2 separate regions of the Homo sapiens genome follow, and region 2 is linked to region 1. A link means that fine-mapping ties the variant in region 1 to the plasma level of a protein whose gene starts in the linked region. Region 1 holds a variant in brackets. A gene starts in the other region. All regions are shown on their reverse strands.

Region 1 (12,442 bases):
AAGTTTGATTAGCATCAACGATGTACCATAAAATTTTTGAAAATTTTGTCTACTTAATGCTTATAATAACCCTATGATATAGATGTCATTATTCCCATTTAACTCATGAGGAAACTGAGACTTACTGTTCAAGCTACCAAACAGTTTGTTGGAGACACGCTAAGAGCCAGGACTGTCTGACTCTGAAGTTCCTGTCTCTTTAAGGCTATACCGTACGGACAAGAAGAAGAAGGTGGAAATGTTTCCTGTCTCTTTAAGGCTATACCGTACGGACAAGAAGAAGAAGGTGGAAATGTTTCCTGAGCTCCCCTTTACCATTTTAAGGAACTCATCTGAAAACAACAAGAGGGTGATTGTTGTAAACCATGGGGGCAAAACAGTGAAATATATTTGATAACAGGAATTACAGGAAGCTGAAAGAATAGATAGCATAATTTGGGATAAGACAGAAAACTATGAATAGGCCTAGAGTGCTTTGAGGATGCTTATCAGATGTTTGCATTGGAGGTCAAGAGGCTTCTGAAACTTCTGGGACAGGGTCTGGGTGGGGAGTGATGAAGGAAGAACAAGTTGTAGAGATCAAGTCAGATGAGAAGTCACTTGCTGAAGGTAAAAGATAAAGAAGACAAAGAAAAAAATTACCAGTGAGTGACAAAGTAAAAGCAACAGCAGGGTTTATTTGGGGTGTAGAAAAGATGCTAGTTTTTCTATCTGGGTAAGTAAAATTTAAATATATGTTTTATTCAGTATGAAATGAAATGATATGTAAGAAGGTACCCTCAAAAAGTGAAAAAGCAGCTGTATAAGATTATTTCACATGACTTTATGAATGATACCTTTTCAATGAAAGCAAATGATCCAGGGACTCTTAGGAATTAAGACTGTTATTTCTCCTTTTTTATTGCTTATTATAGCATCACCCAAAATGGAAACAATGAATTAGCATTAACTGATCTAATTCTTTATTAATCAATATATTAAGAAAATATTGCATTAAAATAACATCTAAAGTTATAATACCATACTATTTAACTTTTCTTTAGGTATTTCCAAAATTAATAAACTCAATTATACATAGGTGTTACATGTCAAAATTAGCCATGGTAACTCTCACTTCTATAATCTGACCTTTCTAAAAACCTGAAAATCAAAAGTTTATCTTGAATACATCCTAAAAATAGCAGTAAAAAGTGACTTCATAATGGTGTTGCCAACCTTGGTTGTGAAACATTTTACTATGGACTATTTCCCTCATAGATTGTGCCCATTAAAAATGGTTCTGCTAAAATTTATAGTGTAATAGTGACTTTGAGAAATACACAGGAAGGAAGGAAATGTTTGGTCAAATTACTGCTTAATTATTCCAAAGCTGGAGTGACTGGCTTTGTTTTGCGCCCTTTTACTGAATAACTTTTGATAACAATCAAACTGAAAAGTCAAGAAATTAACTTTTATGGAAATTGAGTCATGCCTTAAATTCATTTTTAATTCTTATACTGCTTATTTAGTAACCAATAAAACTAAACCAAGTTGTGCTATGAAGTGAAGGATCATAACTTCAAATAAGCAATTCCATTTTCTCCATTATCCCTACACTTGGCTGGCAAAGAGTCTCTAGGAATTTTTTAATGTATTATTTAAAATTGAAAATACTAATGTTCATACTAATATGATGTTAGATTTTTCAGTTATGTTTACTGGCAATAACAAAAAATTTAAATTCAGTTCTGTTTACTGCCTATCATTGTGTTATTTTTTCCTTCCTCTGTCAGTGACCTTCAAATAATCTTAATAATATAAAGGAATGTCTGTGACAACTATATTCAGTTTAGACTTCACATTTTACAACTAAGACAATGTTACATATAAATACATAAGAACATATCATAGCTAATGTATATATCTTTGTGTGAATATGCATTTGTTTATATATGTATCTATGTTTATTTTTAGAGACAAAACTTTAAAACCAATACAAAGATATTAAATCATTTTGCGATTGTACTAAGACAGTAGAAAGTGAAATGAACATACCATTATCTTTTAAAAATTTATATCACAGCCTTAATTACCTGGTTTGTCTATATGGCCATGGCACCAGAATAACTGTTATCTGTCTGTCTTCTTCAGTTTGTCAATTTGAGGTGGCAATTGTTTTTCTTGAAGAGACTTGCCCTGTTGCCCAGGCTGGAGTTCAGTGGCATGCATTTATGGCTCACTATAGCCTCAAGCTCCTGGGCTTAAATAATCCTCCTGCCTCAGCCTCCTGAGTAGGTAGGATTACAGGCGAGCACCTAGCTAATTTAAAAAAAAAAAAAAAAAAAAAAAAAAAAAAAGCTTGTGTTGAGATGGAGTCTTGCTCTGTTGCCCAGGCTGGTCTCGAACTTCTGGCCTCAAGAGATCCTCCTTCCTCCATCTCTCAAAGTGCTGGGATTATAGGCATGAACCACTATGCCCTGCTAGGGGAGCATTCTTGTAGCACCTTTCAGTGATATCTTTTGGTAAGCAAGATGGCACCGATTTCACATCACTTTTGGCCTAGCGATATGTTTGTAAAGACCTAGGAACAATGATCTTTCTAACAATGGCCTGTGTTGATGAATCATCAATTTAGTTTCATAGAAAATGACAGTGACCTATTTTGTCCCTGTCTACCATAATGCCTTATGGTTTTCTGAAGAAGAGTTGGATTTGTTAGAGATTATAGTGCCTTTTGAGGACATGTACCTAGAAAGTGTGTTCTAGAATGGACAGCATTCTGATCTAATACAATGAGCACACTGACTTTGGAGTCTGATTAACCCAAGAATGAGTCAAAAGTTACTAAGCTTTTAAAATCCGTTTCCACATCTGTAAAGCATGGATTATAAATAATGACTTCCTCAAAGGGTTGGTATCATAACTAAATTATACGGTTTCTACCATATAATATGCACTCAGGAGGTGTTTCTTCCTTCTGCCTCCACATGTTTTCTACTGTAGTGGGATGGCAGGACTTCATCACTTCTACCTTGAAACCTACAGTGTCTCACAAGGCTGCAGATGAAGAGAGTCATTCCCATTTAAAGAACACTATGTTATGTTGTCCAGTCTATTTGCATGTTGATAACAGAAACCCTCCATACTGAGAAATATAGACATGACCAGATTATTGTGTGATGTGTAAAATATGAAGATAATTTTGGCAATGTAGCTTCTACCTTAGAAGCTAATTGCTTGATTTTGCATCTGTTTTCAGAATACTCAGTGGAACTTTAGGTGTATGCATTCTAGTTGTGTATACCAATTTGTAGTTGACTAATTCTGCAAATCTAACTGATTAATATGAACACCAGAAAAAAATAATTTCACTTCAGGGCAATGTTAACCCAGGGAGTCACATCACTGAATATCATTTTGAAAATTTGTTTATTAAAAACATTTCTTTGACATTGGAGCAGCTAACTTGTTTGTGGTGTTGTTGCTATTGTTCCTTTTTTTTTTTTTTTAAACAGGCAATAGAGTGACTGGCCTGTGCCATTATTCTATTTATAGAAAGTAAAATTAAAGCCTTAAAGATAAACATGCATAGTTTGTGAACAAATGCAAAACAACAACCTTTATGAAGATTATTTGTACGCTATTTCCACTGGTTTACTCCAAAGATATATTCTCAATGATAATAAAGTAATAAAAGATTGTTTTCACAGCTGTTTGTCTTTGATTACATATTTCTTTGAAGTACTGTAATAAGACAGACTTTGAACCTGGAAAGAGATCAAATAATGAATTGTTCTGCTTTGTGAAGCTTAAGAAGGGATTTTATTGTCGAAACATATAGTGCGACATATTTTTTCTTCTAACAGTTAAATAATGGTTGAAAGTACTATGAGATCATTACAGATGGACTAGATTAAAAGTCTTGGGGCCAAGTGTTAGTGATCGTTACCAAAAATTGGTGCTTTGGTTTAAAAAGTCAGGTTTTACAATTACCAAACATTTCATTGGTTTAGTTTTGAGTTAAAATAGAACACAGTATTAATGCTAGAATATATTCTCAGACTTGTAATATTTATATCTAAAGACAATATAAAACTTACATTCACAGATCTCAAAAGACTTATGCCAAATTTGTTATCCACTTCAGGTTTAGGCAGATTAGATTAAAGAGATTCTGTAAATTAAACTAAATGTCATTAGATAAAAGAACATTAACAAACATCATATGGTTTTTCTTTTATCTAAACTAGCAATTTTGAAAATGTAGCGGAAAGTTCAGTAGTAACACTCTTAATAGGTTTTCAGATGTTACATATGAATATGGTTGTAACTATTGTTATTTCTACCTAAATTTTCCGCAAGAATTACATAGTATCTATCAATCAGCAGAGGTGTGGTACATATTTTAAAATAATAGAATTAGGGATAATCATTGCAGCACTTTGCTCAACCTAGGATATATGTACTATGTAGTATCATTATAAAGCATTAAATGGTAATTGGGTGGGCATTTCAATATAGCATATTTTGTTATTATAGTTATATCGAAACAACATTTTGCTTTTGTAAACACTTGGCAGTTCATGAGTATACATTTTAGAGAGTAAGAATAACATGTATGTGCATATTTTTAGATCTCATTTATTCAGCATACTATTTCTCTAAACTAGTTTTTGTTGTATTTGGAAGAAACTTTTTTCTTTATTTAAGATATAAACCTTTCAAATGATAATTTTCATGGAAATACTAGACAAAGGAATATTGTAACTTTAGAGTTTTTATGATGAAGGTGTGTTTAAGAGATGTCACTTTGATATTTTTACATTATGTCCTACATTTGTCAGCTAAAACCAGGATATTGCCTCAATGAGAAAAAGCATGTTCTGCACTTGTCAAAAGGCAGTAAGTAATGATTAAAATAGCAGTGTGAAACGCTAGGAGATTAAAGTGATGCTAATGATAAGTGAGAGAAGAAAAGGGCAAGCTATATTTTAATCCCTGAGAGAATGGTTAATGACTTCTATTGCCTGAGATTAAACTAAACCTGTCTCATCAGCTTTTTCTGCCTGGTGAAAAAAAGCTCTCTGCACTTTAATTTATTAAAGTCTTTTAAGGAAGCACATTGATCTACAGAGGTTAAACTTTTAAAAATTGTGCAAAATACACACAAATGCTTTAACAAAAGTGTGATTTTGTTGCTTTTAGGCATGCTCACATATTCATAAAGAACCCATTGTCTATTCCTTAGTATGTTTAATTAAGGAATGTTAATTACTCAAACTAGAAGGTTTATTCCTTTTAAACATCAGAACATATTCATATTACTGTGTAGGCAAGGGGCAAGTATACTGTAGAGGATATCAGTCTATATGAAGAGATTAATTTACAGTTGTAATTACTGCTTGGTTTGTTTAGAATAATACATGTACAGTTCAGAAAATGAATTATTTTATTTTAAAACCCTTTTAAGGATAGTAAATTGTAATCTTTAAATAGATCAACTTGCCAGTAACTTTAGATAACACGTTATTGTGAATTTCAATGTTTGATGATTCTCTTGGACTTTTAATTATAGTGGCTTTTTTTTTTCATCCTTTACTCATCTTCAACCATAAATGGTAACCCACCTTTATGTAACTAACATTTACCTTTATACAGTAATATTTACCTTTTCTTAGTGAGATAAAGAGTGTGTGTGTATGTGTGTGTGTGTGTAATGATATGGATATAAGAAGATGAATAATAAGAATTTTACTCAAATCCTTTCTATGAGTTTGTAGCCCATAAAAATGTTTAACATTTACCAACACTATATCTTAATTATGTTAGGTTATCTATCACAACAGAATAATTTCCACCAAATCAGGTCATAACAGTTCATTGATTCTTTGTAACAAGAAAAATGTTGTTTCTACTTTCTAGAATGGGATACTTGCCCTTTCTAGAGTTCTGTAAGTTCTACTTTGGTTCAAAAGTTACTGATTAGTTGCAAAAATGGATGCAGGGATACTTAAATTGACATACTGATTTGCATTTAAATACTAAGTGACTTTTTAATTCAACAATTTCGTGGCCGACTTGTATCTCAGCTTAGAAGAAATCTGTCATTTGGTCATTCTGGCAAAGATTTATTTATTTATTTATTTATTTATTTATTTATTTATTTATCCTTTTGCTTCTTTTTGCATTTGCTGGTGGTGTTCTTCTTCATAATTCCATTATTAATACTCCTCATTCTTAATAGTATATTTCTTTCTATTGACTAAACCAAGAGCTATAAGGAAGATCTTTCCTAAAATTTCATTATCTAAAATATTTTTAAAACTTTATTTTCTATGTAACTTTTTAGGCTAGGGAGTTTAAACTGAGTACATTCTTTGATGTTAATGAAACACCAATTTTTCTGAAGGCCATGTAGCCCTAATGAGCAGCTTCTTATAAAAGAACATTTAATCAAGGTTTATTTTTAACTTGTTTAAACAGATCTAATAGTTTGTGCTGATTTCATTTCAGTATAATAATTGCTA[G/A]CAATCCTATTAGTAAGTCCTAGTACAGGGAAGTTAACACAAATTCCAATCTAATGAGAGTGGTGTCACAGCAAAAACCATGTAGTCAAGGAAAGATCAGTATTGCACTGGAGGGAAAGAGGCACCTGGCTATTCTGTACATAGTTTTGTTGCCATAAGTCTTTGAGTTCTGAGTTACTTAATGCTTACATGGAATTTACTAGATTTAGTTAATTCAGTTTCTTATGGCCTTTAAAAGGCAAAAAAACTTAATGAAAACAACACCTACTTTAGGGGGACGTTCTGAGAAAATAAATTACGTTTTCTACCCAAGCACATTTTGGTACACATAATTTTCTTATAATAAAGCCTATTATGTCACTTAGTTTTAATTTGTTACAAGAGCATACATAAAAATTAATCTTTAAATGCGTTCTTTCCTTCTTGAGCTTCAGATTGAAGAAAATGAAATGTTACTGGATTACGGGGCATGTGAATAATATAACTGATAGAATTAAAGGATGATTTAAGACTAGCAGAATGATGGATAATTTCAGCTGATATTGTATAATAGGATAATTTTTAAAAGAGGTGACAAAATAGTCTGATTAAGAGCCAAATATTTTAAATACCGTTAACTTACTATTAGAATTGGTTTAAAATAACATTGTTGATACTTTAGACTGTTCGGTGAGTGTGAAGATTTCATTGCATTCAAAAATGAAAACAAGATAAGAAGTAAGACTCTGGTAGAGAAAACGTACGAAGGCAAGGATTTCAGGCCTTGTAATGAAAGTGCATATCTGCCAAGTTCAGGTTATAATCTTTTAAACTTTTTATTACTTAATATGACACAGTGACATTTAAAATATGGAGAAATTGAAGATAAATAATATGGAGTGAATGGCAGAATTGATTTAAAATTTTAAAGCTGTACTAAAAGTATTCTAATGCACTGAAGGACATTTGTAAGTTATACATTGTTTATAGGTTTCTGATGAGAATCCCAAAGCATAATGTATTAGAGCTTGCCTTTGCCATGAGGGCAAAAGAATATTGTCCATAGAAAATAGTGGATAGTAAAATTTAGCCTCTTTTTTTATTCATGTAAATCATCTGCTTTTTGTGAAAGGTTTTTATGCATAAGATCATGTCACATATTACTAATTTCAACCAATAACTGATATATTTGGTCTTCTGGAGGATTTCTTTATGAGATTATCATTTATTGTTCTAAAAAGTTGAAATTAGAATAACGAATGCTGTGAGAACTGTGATTTTTATACTCTCAGTACAGAATAAGGAGTACTTTTTCACAATGGTTTTAAAATCTTGGTATGCTGATAACTTGATGATTTAAAAGTATCTTTTACTACATTTGGTTAAAAACTGTCTGATATACAATCTACTATTTTTCAGAAAAGTGACCCTCACAAAGTGCACATGATACTCAACCAAGGTGCTTGATAACAATGTAGATTTATTGGTCTCATCCTGGATATACTTAATTTCTCACTCTAGGAGCAGAACCTGGAAATTCTTATTTTTAATGAAGTTCCACAGGTGTTTCTATTGCACACAAAAGTTTGAAAACTACTATTTTAGAGAGAGTGCAACACTTCATAGGCTAAATGGAAGGGTCTATTTTTGGCACTTTGTTAGAATAAACCTAGAAGATTTTTAGTGTAGAGTTTTTATATGGAATCTTTAATGTGGTTAAGAAAAAAAAATTATAAAGGCATTTGTAGCTTTAAATATGAAGAGTATGTGGTACATAGATGACAAATTTAGGACATCTTTCACAGATGCTGTATACTCAAATGAATCATGTCATCTGGCTCAAGTTGCTATTCTATCTTAACTGCAAACAAACTCACACTATTTGTACTGAATGCTTATACAAGTTGCATTCTGAATACTAAGTTGGCATGTATTTACAAATCTGAGAGAACTGCTATGTTTAATGCACAGGTTGTCATAGAAACTAATTAACTTTTATTTCCATGTCAAGATAAAGTAGTGTAATACAGATGAAAATTGTAGCAAAGGAAATAGTATCACAACTAAGAGAAAAAAAGCTCCAAGACTCAGAAAATGTGCAATCAAAATGCGTGATGTCAAATAACTCAGTGGTGGATTGTTTTTAATTCTGCAAATTATGATGTTAAAAATTGTACAGACAGAGTCCACATTTTCCTAGAGCTGTTTAAGCAATTTAAATGGAATTTGGCAAACAATAGATTTAGTATAACATCTATCAAACAATGCCAGAAAAGTTTTCCAGCTTAAAGATTATTCTGTATTTATTTGAGCTGCCTTATTTTGTTCTACAATTACCTGTCTTTTGAATTAGAGAAGAAAAAATATGTCATCCATGAAGCTCACAGTGTGCTCAGGGCTGTAGAACTGTAACTGCAACACTTTTAAAAACATCTTATTTATTTGAGAGCAAATATTAATACATTTCATACTTTTTTCCAGTCACATTTGTTGAATATGTTTTCATCATAAGAAAGCAATACACCCTTCTGACATAGGCCAGAGAGGAAAGAAAAGAAAGGCAATCTGTAAGAATAAAGCATGAACTTTCATCACATCTTGGCACATCCTAAACCTTCCTACCTGCAGTAAGCTTTCTCCCTGGCCTAGTCATTAGAGAAATCGACATCTTTTTGTGGCCTTATACTTGTTCCAAAAAGTGAGGATGGAAAGTAGGTAATCTATGAGTCATCTTTGTTTTGATTATGGCATGTCTTATTCAAGGAGAGTGACGATGAAGGTAGAATTAATGGTGAAGAATATTAAAAGAAAGAGGTCAAGTAATGTGATTGAATCGCTGGGACTGGAGAGACAATAATGGGGCTTATATTCTTTAAATGATTTTAATGAGAATATACTTAACATTCTGAAATTCTAATTATATGATAGCCCATAGTACTCTTAATACTACTAATAATAGGAAATTGCAGAATTCAATACGTAAAAATTAAACTTTTTAAAAATGCTAAACTTTGCCTATGGAGCTAAATTATATCTTATTTTAAAATATTGCTTCATTGCTACTTATAATATTTTTAATTATATTATAAAACATATTCTTCTCATCCCACTGAAACTTATACAGAAGGAAAAGTGTTAAAGGGCTAGGAAAATATTATTTCATCATTTCTGTTCCATTAGAATTCACTTGGGTGGCTGAGAAAATGGTTTATGGATTAGAGAGGGAAGAACAAGCTAAAACATTTCATACCTTCATCTCTGATAAATTCCCCAAACTCATTCTTTGCATCTGAGCCATAAATAACAACCATGCTTTTTGCTATAAAGAGCTTTTTGCCTACACCAGGTCTTTTGTCTTGGAGATGAATGCTATAATAAATTTGGAGTCTTGGGGGGGCATTGTTTGAACTATAACATTATGGTTTACAACTGTTGCTTCTATGATGAGGAGGATAAAAAGCGACTGTGAAGCTTGATCTCTGTCATAGAAATGGATTAATATTTCAGTCTTCAATATGGGTCAAGTGTATGATTCTCCCCAAAGCAATTCACCATGATTAATTTTTATTATGTGGTCATTCAGATTCTCTTTATATTCTTAGATATTTTATTCCCCCACCAAATCGCCCCTTGAAATACTATAACTTAGATTTTTCACATAATAGCAGAAACACAAGATTTTTAGATTCTTATAACAGTTTTAATAAAACCTCATGGAAGAAACCTCTAAAGTGTTTTCTCAAAAATTATATGAATAACTTAAATAATAGTAGAAACTTAAATCATTATATTGATAATAATTAATATTAACTTAATTTATTGATAAACAGTGTTAAATATATATTAATTGCAAAGTAATATGATGTTTTAATTTGCCAATGACTAAGTAATTAATTATTAGGAAAATGTACTCTGTCACTGGGGAAAAAATGGCAGTTGCATAAAGATGTAGCTTTTAAAGTCACCTTTTTCTGAGGAGAGGAGGGTGTTAACTAGGAAAACAAGACCTCTCTGTTGTCTTTGTTATCTTTATCTAGACTATAGTTTTTCACATATATCTGCAAGATGCTAATGAGTTTAAAACTTTGGGGGAAAAAAACTTTTTTGGCCTTTAATTAAGTGAGAGCTTTTTTTTTTTAAGCCTTTTCTCAGGAGGAAACTGACACATTTTATGTGTAAATAATTTCATGTATTGAAATTGTTTTTTTCAGTGCTTTCATTCCTCCCTTTGCCCTGCAAAATTTAAGGAACTTCAAGATATTAATTTTCAGTGCTTACATTAAGAATTCCTACAAAGTACTTATAAGAGCAATCAACAAGTCTTATTCAATTATTTATTTTACAAGTTATTGTTGGCAGTCTACTGACTGCCAGTCATGTCAATTGTAAATTGAAGGGAGCCATGAAGCTGTGGGAAGCCCAAACATTCCCTACAGACAATTATATGGGGAGAAATAGTTACAATCACTGGGATCAGGGCTAATGGAGGTTACATTATGTTTGGTACAACTATATATAATTTAGTTTTGCTAGGCAGTAGGTCTCAAACCTGGCTACACCTTAGAAAAAACTGGGTTGCTTTAAAAAAATTCTGATGCACAGGCTTCACCTTAAGAATCTCAAGAGCTGAATGAAGCCCGGCCATTGGAATTTTAAACATCTCCACAAGTGATTATAGATTCTAAGGTACTTAAAGGCTACAGGTGACAACCTGAAGAGAAGAGGGTACAGATGGAGAATGAGAAGGAGAGGTGAGTAGGAAATTTAGGGGAAATAGTAAATAATCTTTTTGAGGCCAGGCGTGGTGGCTCACGCCTGTAATCCCAGCACTTTGGGAGGCCGAGGCGGACGGATCACGAGGTCAGGAGACCGAGACCATCCTGGCTAACACAGTGAAACCCCGTCTCTACTAAAAATACAAAAAATTAGCTGGACGTGGTGGCGGGCGCCTGTTGTCCCAGCTACTCAGGAGGCTGAGGCAGGAGAATGGTGTGAACCCGGGAGGCGGAGCTTGCAGTGAGCAGAGATCGCGCCACTGCACTCCAGCCTGGGCGACAGAGCGAGACTCAGTCTCAAAAAAAAAAAAAAAAAAAATGAAGAAGAAGAAGAATAATCCTTTTGAGCAACAGCATTAGATTTAGACCGACTCTGTTTCACATCCTGGCTTGGTCATTTTCTTATTCCATGACTGTAGATGTTAGTTGTTATGGAAACATTACTTATAAAACTGGGGGTCTTAAATCTCACTTCCTAGGATTGCTAGAAAGAGTAAATAAAATAGTGTATGAAGACATTTCAACAGTGCTTGGCACATCCTATGATAACCATCATTATTACTGTTTAAAGATGGCTGGAGAAATGGGCAGGAACCAGATAATAATGGCTCTCATTTATTCTTGTGTTTAGATTTTTATCTTGAAAAGAATGAGGAAATATGGAAGATTTTTAAGACAGTACATTACATAACAAAATTTGCATAGTATAAGTAAGACTCTAGCATCCCATTGTGGGACAAATTGGAAAGTGTACTACAAATGGAGGCAAGAAGGCTAGTTAGAAGATTATTATAACAGTCCCTGTGGAAAATAAAAAGAGCCTTTACTGAAACAGTGACCACAAAAATGGGGAAAAGCAGATGGACGTGACAGTGCCTCAAGGGGTAGAACCCATGGAATTTAGTCACAGATTAGAAGCTTGTGGGTAGGCAAGGATAGATGGAACAGGTGAAATCATAAGTTAATGTCTTCCAAATGCCTGGTTTGTATGACTTGATGGATGGTGCAACAGGAAGGGAATACAGAATGAGGAAAAAGATAACAAATTCATGGAAATGTTGCACTTGAGATAACGGTAGAATAATCAGGGGCTGGTATCCAGGGTTAGTAGACTGTATTGGTATCAGTGGGGACCCCTGCTTACCTCACTTGAAGATTGGAAATTGGAATGAATGGAACTTT
Region 2 (12,442 bases), not on the chromosome of region 1:
GGCAAAAAGTTTGAAAAATTTTTTGAAAGTTAAATCTAAATGTATCTTATGGTTTAACAATTCTATTTCTGATAACCTACCCGGGATAAATTAGAACATTTGCCCACAGTTTTGTATGTGAATGTTCATAGCTGCATTATTTATAATAATGCATAACAGGAAGCAATCCAAATGTCTACTAACTGGTAAATGAATAGACAAAATATTCTGTATCTATAAAATGGAATACTATTGTATAGATAGAGCACATAAATAGTAATAAAAATGTAAGGGATATACAATAGAATAGTGCACAGGCATAAAAAGGAATGTATTAACAGCATTTGCAGTGACTTGGATGAGATTGGAGACTATTATTCTAAGTGAAGTAACTCAGAATGGAAAACCAAACATCATATGTTCTCACTGATATGTGGGAGCTAAGCTATGAGGACGTAAAGACATAAGAATGATACAATGGACTTTAGGGACTTAGGGGGAAGAGTGAGGTGGGGCGGTGAGGGATAGAAAACTACAAATATGGTGCAGTGTCTACTGCTCGGGTGATGGATGCACCAAAAATTCACGAATCACCACTAAAGAACTTACTCATGTAACCAACTACCACCTGTACCCCAATAACTTATGGAAATTTTTTTTTTAAAGTAAGGAAATGTTGATACATGTTACAATGTGGATAAACCTTAACAACATTAGAAGCTAAATGCAAAAGACTGCACAATGGATGATTCCATTTATATAGAATGTCCAGAAAAGTAAAATTTATAGAAACAGAAGTGAATCAGTGGATGCCTGGGGCTGGAGGAGTGTAAGTAGAGATTTACAAGCAGCAGGCCTAATATAAATGCAGGAGGTGAAGGAAAAGTTCTAAAACTGTATTTTGATGGTGGTTTCCCATGCTATAAACTTATTAAAAAATCAATGAATTATACACTTAAAATGGGTGAACTTTCAATAAATCTATTAAAACTACTAAATATTTAAGCAGTGTTCTTCAACGATGCTGGCACATTTGGACCATGTGGATAATTTTAAAATTTATGTCTGTGTCCCATTCTTTGATATTTTGATTTAATATTCTTACAATTGGGCATTGAGTTTTTTTTAAGCTGAGTGATTCTAATACGCAGCCATATTGGAGAACCACTGCAATAAAGTATTGTCCTTCCTTGAGGTCATTAATATATGGTATGCTAATCTTACTATTCTAACTCTCAGTTAATTTATTTAACATCTTGTTAAACACTCACTATGTACTAGGCACAATATTTGACACAAAGGAGACAAAAAATTAGGAACACTTCATTTCTGTCTTTATGGACTCATGGACAAGGGAGAAGTACAATCCTAAAGGTATATCAATGTAATAAATTTTATAATAAAAGTAAGTACAAGGTTAGTGGAAGTACAAATAAAGGAATGATCAGTTTTGAGCAACAAAAGAAAAGGTCAGGAAAAGCTTAAGATGTAGTGATTCTTCATCCTGGAAGATTAGAGGGAGAGGAAATGGCAGACAAAAATATTCAAAGAACTGAATATTTGGAGAAAAGCAAGTAATTCAGTACAGCCTTAAAAAAAATGAGGTGGGGGGAGAATATTGAGAAAACTGATATCAGAGGACAAGTGAAATTAGAGGGTATTTCATATGCCATACCATGGGAAACCACTGGATGAAAGGACATGGTCATGTATGTATTTTAGAAAGAGCACACTCACCAGGTGTGTTGGCATGTGCTGGTAGTCCCAGCTACTTGGGAGGCTGAGACAGAGGATCATTTCAGCTCAAGGGTTCTGGGCTACAGTGTGCTATGCAAATTGGATGTCTGCACTAACTTCAGTATCAATATGGTTATCTCCCAGAGCAGGGGACCAACCGGTTGTCTAAGGAGGGATTTAAAGTTGGGCCTTTGAAACCACTTTATAAATAACTGTCCAATAGTTGAGAGTCCAGGCAGGGAAGACAGAGAATAGCAAACTACTCAAAGATACTCTACAGACAGAAGTATTACCCTTGGCGAGAGGCCAAGAGAGAACAAGCTGGCACAGTCTATACCTGGGCAAGGCTGCTGATGGATAATACTCCAAAAGAAAAATGCTGAAGAAGGAAGGAAAGGAAATTTCCCAAAAAAGAGAATAACATGAGCAAAGACATTCTCAAAATATATAAGATTTTTTAAATTTTATTTTTTTGTGACTAGAGAGTTGAATATTATAGAACAGTGTTGCAAATAAGGCAGAAAATATATTACAAAGTTCTTTGGAGTCCAGGCTTATGGACTTAAAATCTATTCTTCATGCAAATGGTACCCACTGAAATTTTTGAAGATTAACAAATTTGCTCAAGTTTAAAATACAATCGATTTAAGATGCATGATTATCATATATCAATTTGCCAATTATAGAGCATTGGCTATAAGATGCATCACATATCAGAGATAAAATATGAAAAGTGGAGTTTAAAATTGATGAAAAAATTGGTATCAATGGCAGAAGCCTGATGACTTTAGGTAACTACATAAAAACTATAAAATCTGACTCATTTTTATATCGTTTTTTCTTTATATATGAGGGGATTCTCTATCTTTGAAGAGTGAAAATATAATTAATGTAAATTAAAATATTTGTAACAGTATTTTCTAGCTTTTGTAATTCAGGTGGTTAGATGAATTTAATGAGGCCAAGGACTTCAAAATTATCCCAAGTGTGCCAGTTAATAACCAGGAAAATCATTTTTGCTCAAGGCCACAGTCTATAATCCTTTCTAGAAATCAATTTTGCAAATGCATACTACTTATCACAAAACTACCAGAGTAGGCACAGTCACAAAATTATAGAATTAAAGAGGTGGAAGAGATCACAGAATTTATAAAGTCAAAACACCCTCAGTGTGTATATCCCCTCCAAGACACTCCCAGTAGAAGCTGGCCATTCAGCTTCTACTTCTACATTCTTCCCTGCAAACTGTAATCCTGTGAGGTCCAAGACTCTGTCTTGCTTACTGTGGTAGCATCCTGAATAATATACTGTAGTCAATAAATATTTCTGAGTAAGTGAATGAGTGTTCTTATGGGGGAATTGTACCATTCATGCAGTAGTACCCATTGCTGTAGAAGAGCTCAAATTTGAGAAGTATTTTTAAAGGGCAGTAAAAGTCACCTCTGGTGTCTCTGAGAAAATCTGCCACCTCTTCTTATGTAAGCCTTGCAAATACTTGCAGGCAGCAACTCCAAGCCACACTTTCCTATTTCAGTCCACAGTTTGCCACATATCATTGTTTCCAAGACTTTCTACTGTGCCCTATATGAGCTACATTTGGTCAGTTTAAAAAAAAAAAAAAAAAAAACTTCTGGTGCCCAGAATGAAATAATTATTTACCTAGCCAGCCCAGGCGACAGACTTCTCTGACCAAATGTATGCAAATCCCTCGCTTTGGGGGAAAAGTTCTTCAAATGGCAGTATCATGCTGATGAGGGATCTTTCAGGGAACATTAATAGGTAAAACTGTGAACTCCCCCAGCAGGCTTCATTCATCTATTAAGGACACCTCCGTGAGGGACTAGGATGCCAAGAGAGAGTGATGCATTATACTCCTCATCCAATTAAACCCATAGTAAAATATTTTGGAGGGTTTTCTTTCCTGAGTGGAGGCTAAGAAAGCATTCATTAAACCTGGGAAGTTCTAAGTCTTCCAATTTGCATAGTGAATTGGAACTGTGGTAGCCTGAATATGAATGGAGATGTGGTAATTCAGTAACATGAAATGGGAAATGCAGTTTAATTACCCCAGAGATTTTTTTTTGGAACATAAATTGCTTCTACTTTTGTAACAATATTGGATTATGAACCCATTCACCTTGATGTTGTGTAATGAAGCCTATAAAGCAAGTCATAAAAATGCTTTGTTTGCAATGCTGTTTTTAGAAACTCCAATCTTATGGAAAAATCTTCTCATTATTGAAAGCATTTGTAGTCTCCCCAGAATCCTAGAAATTAAAAGATTCCTGAGCGCAAGGTCCTTCCTACCTAGTTAATGAACGAGGGAAGAAATATTCCTCAAGTTACCTCAAATCTGTAGATCTGGATTATACAGTTCTTTACTACTACCATAAAGTATAATTTAATCTAGAAATGGCCCAAATATACATCTGAAAAGAGATATTGATTTGAAGTGACAGTCCAGGACCAATAACAATTTTAAGGGAAAACACTTTTTATGAAATTACATTTCTGCCATTAGAAAAAATATCTGAAGAATAACAAGTTCACCTTAGAAAACCAAAAGGTAAATTTTAAAAAATTAATATTGAATGAAAATTAAAGGAAGAATAACAATCTACTTTTTACTTATTACATTAGTATAAAGTTTAAAAAGCAATAACATTCAGAGTTAATGAGGATAAATCATCCTCAGACTTTGGACATTTGAGTATAAATTGCTACAAATTGAAGCAAATAATTTGGAAATGTGTATTAAAATCTAAAATATGCATTCTATTAACTAAAAATACTGCTTTTGGGACTCTGCCCTGTTGTATTCAGAAACATGTATAGCTAATATAAATGTATAAAGGTGTTTATTGCAGCATTGTGTGTCACAGTGTACTACTAGAAATAGATCCGTATATCTGTAATTATAGTTAATTAATAAAATATTAAACTGTAAAAAGTATACATTAGATGTTGATGTTAATACTGGAGGGATGCCCTTGAATTAATAATAGAAAGTTGAAGGATAATATACAAAACATAGTCCCTTTTCTGTAAAACCAGATAACAACAACAAAAAAAAAACCTTTAGATATGGATTTGTATATTTCCATAAGCATGGCTCTTTTAGTGTTGATTACCTCATGGTAGGGGCAGCACTAAACTGCTTTAGAGCTCCATAATCTACATTAGTTCCCTCAAAAGCCACTTCATATAAACATAAAAAGAACACACAAAAAAAACTATGTCCAAACTTGCTGTTTGGACATAGTTCCAAGGAAGTCTCCCATTTATTTCTCACTCTCTCTCAAGTCACAGCACCTATACATTTCTAAATGGAAATTTGGAAGTTGCCATAGCTTCAGGAAAGTGAATAAGAAAAAAGATTACTTTCATATAAATATTTTTAACTTTTACAAATTGTCTTGTAATACTTTTGGAAGTTAAGATAAAATTCTAAAAAACCAACAAACAGATTATGGTGAAAATGTTTAGGAATTTTTACCACAGTGTGTGGTCTCTTTTTAGGAAGAAAATTAATTTTAATTACTTTTTAAAATAGTAGAAATGTTGCTCTTTTTTCATCAGTTTGTTCAGTCCATATTCCTACATACTTTTTCTAGCATTTTTCTTTGTCTCAGAACTGTATCCAAAGTCTAGACATTGTTAGCTCTGTCAAGACTAGCAAGGGTCAGAGTGATTCTTCAAGTCATTCCTTAGTCACTGCATTCTCACTCTCTCTTCAAAGTTTATTCTCTAGCGCTGGTCTCCAAGTTCACACACTATATTTTTCACACAGCGACCCTGGCCACTAACATAGGACCAATAGGACCATCAGTGAGAATCAGATGAGGTATCATAAGTAAAAATAATGTATGAACTGGAAAGTACTATGGAAGTGAGGATTCCATTAAGAAGATTATTGAAATAGGCTAGCTTCAAATTGATGGGTCTCTGAAAAGGATACTTACAAAAAAACTCCACAAATATAATAATGGATAGAGCCCTAATCTCAAAAACATAAATTTGAGGGGTCCCAAACTCAATTACACAAGGTTAAGAATATAGAGCTTGGTAAATTCTCTCTCTCTCTTTTTTTTTTTGGAGACAGAGTCTTGCTCTGTCACCAGGCTGGAGTGCAGTGGCGTGATCTTGGCTCACTGCAACCTCCGCCTCCCAGGTTCAAGCCATTCTCCTGCCTCAGCCTCCCAAGTAGTTCAGATTACAGGTGCCCACCCCCATGCCCAGCTAATTTTTGTATTTTTAGTAGAGACGGGATTTCACCATGTTGGCCAGGATGGTCTCGATCTCGTGACCTTGTGATCTGCCTGCCTCGGCCTTCCAAAGTGCTGGGATTACAGGCGTGAGCCACCGCGCCCGGCCGGTAAATTCATTTTAATTCACTTTAAGCTTATATTGGCTATGTGTAGATTTTCTCTTGTTCCTTCATTTTGTTTTAGTACAATTGTAATTAGACTTTTGGGATACATTTTTAGTGGACTTCAAGGTCCAAAAGACTCAAAGCCAAATACTCCAGAAGTACTTATGTAAATAAGAAATAATCCAAGTATATAATTAATTATATTAAAATACATAACACATATACATATGTATATATAGTACAGAACATATATACATATGTGTGTATACATACATATATATTACATATATATATATATATATATATATATACATAACATAGCATACATTTAGTTAGATAGCTTTTCCAACTCTGATGGTGACTTCCAATTTCTGAAAAATTCTCCAGTAGGGGTTGCTTGAAACAGAAAGAAGGAGACGTGTGTGTTAAGGCGACTGAATGGGGCTGTGGTGGTAGCACTAACGTACCTACTTATGAACCTGGTCAGATCCTTCCTTTCTCTTTGTTTTAGTTTACTCACTCCTTCTAAACTGAAAGGCAGTAAACTCTAGTATCTGTAAGATGACTTCCTTATCTAAGATTTTAAGGTTTTATAATTTAACTGTATTACTTTCCAATTATAATTCTACTTCATGCTGAAAAGAAATCCATAATCTAGCTTTTTTCGTGTTGGCAAGGTTAGTTCATAGAAACCATCTTAAGAAACATTGACATGATGGCACAAAATAGAGTGATTATTGATAGCAATCAACTCATTGTATACATTAATCAAATTATTCTAATGCGTGCCAAGGTTTCACATGCTTTTTTTTTTTCAAACAAATACTGAAAAGTCTTGGAGAAATCACACAAGAATATAATAATCTTTTATGTGATTTTACCCGTCATCAGCTTTCCCCTTCTATCTGAACATTTAAACCTCTCTAGATAACAAGAGTTTTACTATAATATTCAGGAATAAGATTCTTCCTGGACTAGGAGGATGTAGGGGGAAATGAGCCTCTGTTTTCAGCATCCAATCTCTGAGCAAAGGATCTCCCACCACCTGCTGCTTCCAACAAGCCCAAACTCTCGCTCCAGCTAGCTTTCCTGGGAACAGAGCAGAAAACTGGAAGGGAGGGGAAGAAGGCTGGTGAGAGCAAGAGGCGGGGAGTGAGGAATGGGAGGCTGGAGGAGGCGTGGCCCGGCTTGGGGCCGTCGGGATAAATACTGAGAACTGGGTGCGGGGTGTAGGGAGAGAACTCTGGAGGAACGCTGAGCTGAGCAGCACCGAGGACAGCGCCCGGCAGCGCCCGCGCCCAGGTCTCCCTCCGCAGCCCTGACTCGCGCACACGCTGAGCTTTTGCTCACTCCCCCTCGCGCGGACACAGACACACGCATATTCACACACCCAGACACACACCCCGCTGTACAATGGCAGAATCCCACCTGCAGTCATCCCTCATCACAGCCTCACAGTTTTTCGAGATCTGGCTCCATTTCGACGCTGACGGTGATTATCTTCTCTTTTTAACTGTTTCAAGACCCGTTTCCATGCCCCTTCCCATTCTTTGCCCTTTTCTGAGCCTCCTGATCCCATTATCCCTCCTTTCTATTCTTTACTTCTTCCCCCTTCTGCCTAATCTTATCTTCTTATCTCCCCGACTGGCCGCCAAACTGTCAACCTGAAAGTTTATATTGTTTCCACCGTAATCCCAAAACCTTAAACTTTTGTCTTTCCAGGAACGGTAATGGTAGGAGAGAGAGAGCAGGGATTGGGGAATGCTGCCCCCCCAAAGTTTCTGTGGCTGCGCTTAGCACCCCAACCATCCTCCTTTGTCCTCAGTGGATCTAAAGTTTGATACCCCAGGAGGGGAGCGCTTCACCGTCTGTACACTTTGCTGGTTAATCAACGTCCAGGCAAGAGAGAGCCTCTCGGGTCGCCAGAAAGATAACTGTCTTGGAAAGTGAACGGGAAAGACACTTGGAATGAGATATCTGACACCTGGGTGCCTCTTTGTCTTTGCAGGAAGTGGTTACCTGGAAGGAAAGGAGCTGCAGAACTTGATCCAGGAGCTCCAGCAGGCGCGAAAGAAGGCTGGATTGGTAGGTTCAAGTTTGCGAAAAAGAAAAAAAGACTTTTAACCCCCAAATTAAAACATTCTTGTGTTTTCACAAAAAGCCAGTAGCGTAAAGCGCTTTCTGGGTAATGTAAACGTTTATTGACTGCGAAAGGCAAGAAAAAACACTTTTCCAACTCGAATACAGAGAAATGGGAAAGGGGAAAGAGACTGAGAAAGAGAGAGGGGGAGAGAGAGAGAGAGAGAAGGGAGGGACAGAGAAGGGAGGGAAGAAGGGAGAAAGGGAGACAGACAGAGAGAGACAGATTTTCTAAAGGGAAAAACCTTGCTATCTGAAACTGGAGCTTTAAATATATATATATTCTATACTAGTACTTGCATTAATAGGTCTTAAAAGGGAACTGTGGGTGCATGAGATTCTTTAGCGGATCACCACCTCTACCACTGAGTTTGATTAGGTAATTTTTAAATTCTCTTTTACTGTGTGAGAAATAAGGGGGTGGAAATGCATTTCTGCCCCTTGGTGGTCAAGAAACAGATCTGCAGATTATGGATCTCTTACTCTATCACCAATTATTATTGTTGTGATGTTGATGTAGTTGGGGAGATGAGAAAACATCTTGTCCTCACTAAGGGTAAGTTGCCCAACTTGCAACCTAACAGTGAGAAAGAATTTAGCAAGAAAAGATCTTCATTTCTGTTGAAAGCAAGAAACCCAAAAGGTAGAGAAGTAAAAAGTAAAACAATTTTAAGAATTTCATGTATTGTAAAAAAAGCAAAGTGATACTCTGATGGGCAGCAATTGATGGTGTTTTGAAAATGGCTATGTTCGTTATTTAAGCCATTAGTTAATTAAACAAATAACCATTCTTATTAATTATAAATGACTCCCTTTGGGCATAAATTAACCTGTTAAGAAAATATGTTGTCAGCATAAATATAAAATACAGTCAGCTTTTAAACATAGATGAGATGGTTGTCCAGAGGAAAATGGGTTAAAAATTGTACTACTCTATTGAGGTTTATGTAACACTGCCTTTCAGAAGGCAGTGTTGAATTGGGATGAGTTACACGTTAATGGTCTTTGGCCTTTTTGACTACGTTTAGAAAGAGATTTTACACTACCAATGATGTATATATTATATAGCAGATCACCACCTCTAATATTGAGTGATATATATAAAATTTAATAATAGAACTTTTTGCCCTATCTAAATTGAAAATTGTGTAATATACATTTCTGTACAGCATATTCAAAAGAATCCCAGAGGGCTCTAAATGTATTATAATGCACTATAGAACTATCAGTTACAAAAATCATTGACCAAATTGATTTTAAACCAGATTGTGCTCTAGGGATTGTTTTACCCAGATTTAATATTATATAATCTAAAAGTATAATAGAACGGAATAAAATAGCATAAAAATGTTTTATATACTCTCCACCCTCCCCATGTCTTATATATTGCCATGTAAATAAATTTATGCAATACTGTCATTATAGCTTTATATATCTTTGGCTAATCTAATAAAAGCAATTATCTTCCTCATTTAAAAATACATATTTTAAAATCAGGTTGGAAAAGTCTTACTTTCCATAAAATTTAGAATTAAAACCTTGGAAGATGCTTCCAGCAGGTAATGATTATATTTTATTTTGTGCAGAAGTAATTTTAATATTGAAATCTATTTTCAGCTTAGAAATTTAAATATTCATGAACTTTAAAAAAATATTTTTCTTCCTCTGATTTTAATATTTGTACCTTTTTGTAAGCAATATCTTCATGTTGGAGATTTAGAATTTAATTATTTTTCTCTGTTTTGGAATATTCAAAGCTCCAATTATTAGACTATAATGTAATGATACTAAACAAGCATAGTTATAGGATTATATCAAGTTGCTTAATACCTTGATTCTTGAGCATTTTTCTGGAATGTAAATACAATCTGGATTTTTCTGAATTTAGTATTTTTCTTGATTTGGGTAGTTAAAATCTAAATCAAGATGTGGATTCAGAGTTTCATATAGTAGATACATGTTTCATTATACTACTAACTTCATTGCATTAAACCTACTTGTATATATTTCTTCTCTTTCTTTAGAACATAAAAATTGCCCTTATAAACCAGGCTTTTTGCATTTCTAGCCATAGGATAACAGATTTCATTGCATTAATGGAAACATTGTTTGGCTTTTCGTATTAATAACATGAAATTTCAAAATTTTCACTAGGTGAATATAACATTAATTAAATATAACAATGCAATATATTTTCAGAAACTATCCTTTTACACTAAACATAGTGTTTGGTCTTTGTAGTTGCACTCATTTTTATACATTTTTAATTGGTGGTGATTATATGTTTTGCACTGTTTAAAAAATAGATTTTGACATACTTGTCAGAAACTTCACAAAGTAAATGTCAAGTCTGCTCGTGAAAGTAGTGGTATTACACCATTTTAAAATTTAAGGACAGATGCTTTGGTTTTTGTTTACGTTAAGATGTATGTAAAAATAAAAAAACTGTAGGACCTGATATTCCCACTATTGCCATGGTTGAACACTTTCATTTTCTTACAATTGTTTCTATAACAAAATTAGATAAATACAAATTGTAATTTATCCATAGTAAGTTTTATAAAGACTAAAATATAATTATATTGCTTTGTTATTATTTATTATCTTAGTTCAACTAAAGATGTCTACATTGGTTCCAAACGGCTTTTATAAATACTAGTAATAATGATATTTAGTCTCAATATAGCCCTTTAATTATATTAACCTATCTATCCCCAAAGCAAACTTGTGTGGTAGATAATACCACCATCTTGTTAGCTATGATGAAAACCGAGACCTTAATTTGCTTTCCCAAGGACGTAGAATAGAACATTAGTAAGGGCTGACCTATTTTAAATAGGCTTCAGCTAATGCAACAGGGCTATTTTAAATGGGCTATGTTGGAGACCCAAGGGTAAAAATTAAACCTCCTGAATACCAGTTCTATGTTCAGATCACTAGTTTATAGTTCATAGCTCTCTAATCTATTTAATTTTTAAATTTATTTAATTGATGAATGCCTCTTTTATGCTTAAAACAATCTTTGCTTACAAAGTGAGTTAATCTTTAACATTCACATTTTTTGCTTGTTCAAAATGAAAACATATATTACTCTCCATAGATAAAACATTATGTTAGAATGAGAAAAATGTTGTAAGACAAGATAGTGTAGCAATATAAGGTAATCTTTAATGAAGCAAGCATTGTTTAAAATATATTGATGGTGATGATTATGTTAAAATTCACTAAAAGTTATGAATGGAATGATTCTGACTACACTTTCAAAGGATAGCATAGTCTCAAAATTAATAATAGAAGATAAATCATATTAATTGAGAAATAATCATGATTACAACTCTTTCATTTGGAACTAATAAATACTGTGTATCAGTTATGCCTTTAATTTTTTTGAGAATAGTTAATCATTATGCATATTTCTAAATGGTTCTAATTTTGGTTTTTCTTTGCAGTAAGTTATTAACACCATCACAAGCATAACTGGTATTTTTTTAACAAACCTCCTACCTGCTTTTATATAATTTTAGGAGTTATCACCTGAAATGAAAACTTTTGTGGATCAGTATGGGCAAAGAGATGATGGAAAAATAGGAATTGTAGAGGTAAGGAATTTATGCATTTTTCTGATTTAATTTTAATAAATGAGTTTCAATTTTGAAGTTGTCTTCAAGTCAAGTAAGATATAGCAAGACCCATTCAGTACAGTTTATTTTACCTAAGTAATACATTATCTTCTGTTCAGAAGTATAAAGTTAAAAAATGTTCACAAATGAAAAACATCTAAGAGTATTCCTAACCCAGGGCCTAAATTTCATATATTACAAAATTGAGACCATGGAAAAACAAAATTGTTTGCCTCTGGTCATACAGCTATTTGCTGGCACAGGTGCAGTTAGAGGAACAAGTCCCTGACTTCTACATGAGTATCAATCACATTCCATTACCCAGCCCCACTTCCATACAGTGTCTAAGCACATGGTCCATCAGTATTTCTTATCACTTAACAGTGTAGACTTGACTTTTAAAATATAAAATAAAATGTTTGCAGTCCCTGTGAAATATTTACAGTCCTTATTTTTCATGGCAAAAAGCTGCATCCTGGTTTGACAGTTGGCCTTCGTAAAAACAGAATAATTTAACTAGAGTGAGTGAATATTTTATGATCTGTTATAGGTACAGATTTCATGTGAATCTTTGAAAGTTAAAACTGTGGGTGTC

Direction of the effects. Alleles are on the strand shown, and positions count from the first base shown. The strength of an association depends on the size of the effect and on how common the allele is.
For the plasma level of the protein whose gene starts at base 7,320 in region 2, allele A in region 1 goes with a lower level than allele G (moderate association).

Evidence for each region. A credible set is the group of variants that fine-mapping cannot tell apart. PIP is the posterior inclusion probability: the model's chance that the variant is causal. The UK Biobank Pharma Proteomics Project read protein levels with antibody pairs (Olink). The fine-mapping took linkage between variants from a reference panel, not from the people measured, so its PIPs are less certain.
Region 2: it holds the start of CALB1, and the variant in region 1 is the best candidate, but not a certain one, in a credible set for the plasma level of the CALB1 protein (UK Biobank, PIP 0.50).

What each region holds. Positions count from the first base shown.
Region 1 is chr13:71,765,022-71,777,463 of GRCh38, reverse strand. The region is part of intron 1 of DACH1 (dachshund family transcription factor 1); the gene reads left to right. Among named protein-coding and RNA genes, the nearest start is that of DACH1, 96 kb to the left of the region's middle. RefSeq lists an enhancer at 3,366-5,616. The variant G/A (reference allele first, on the strand shown) is at 6,507.
Region 2 is chr8:90,077,757-90,090,198 of GRCh38, reverse strand. It overlaps CALB1 (calbindin 1), which reads left to right and starts at 7,320. Exons shown (of 11, transcript NM_004929.4): 1 at 7,320-7,580; 2 at 8,097-8,173; 3 at 11,752-11,826. The coding sequence starts at 7,502.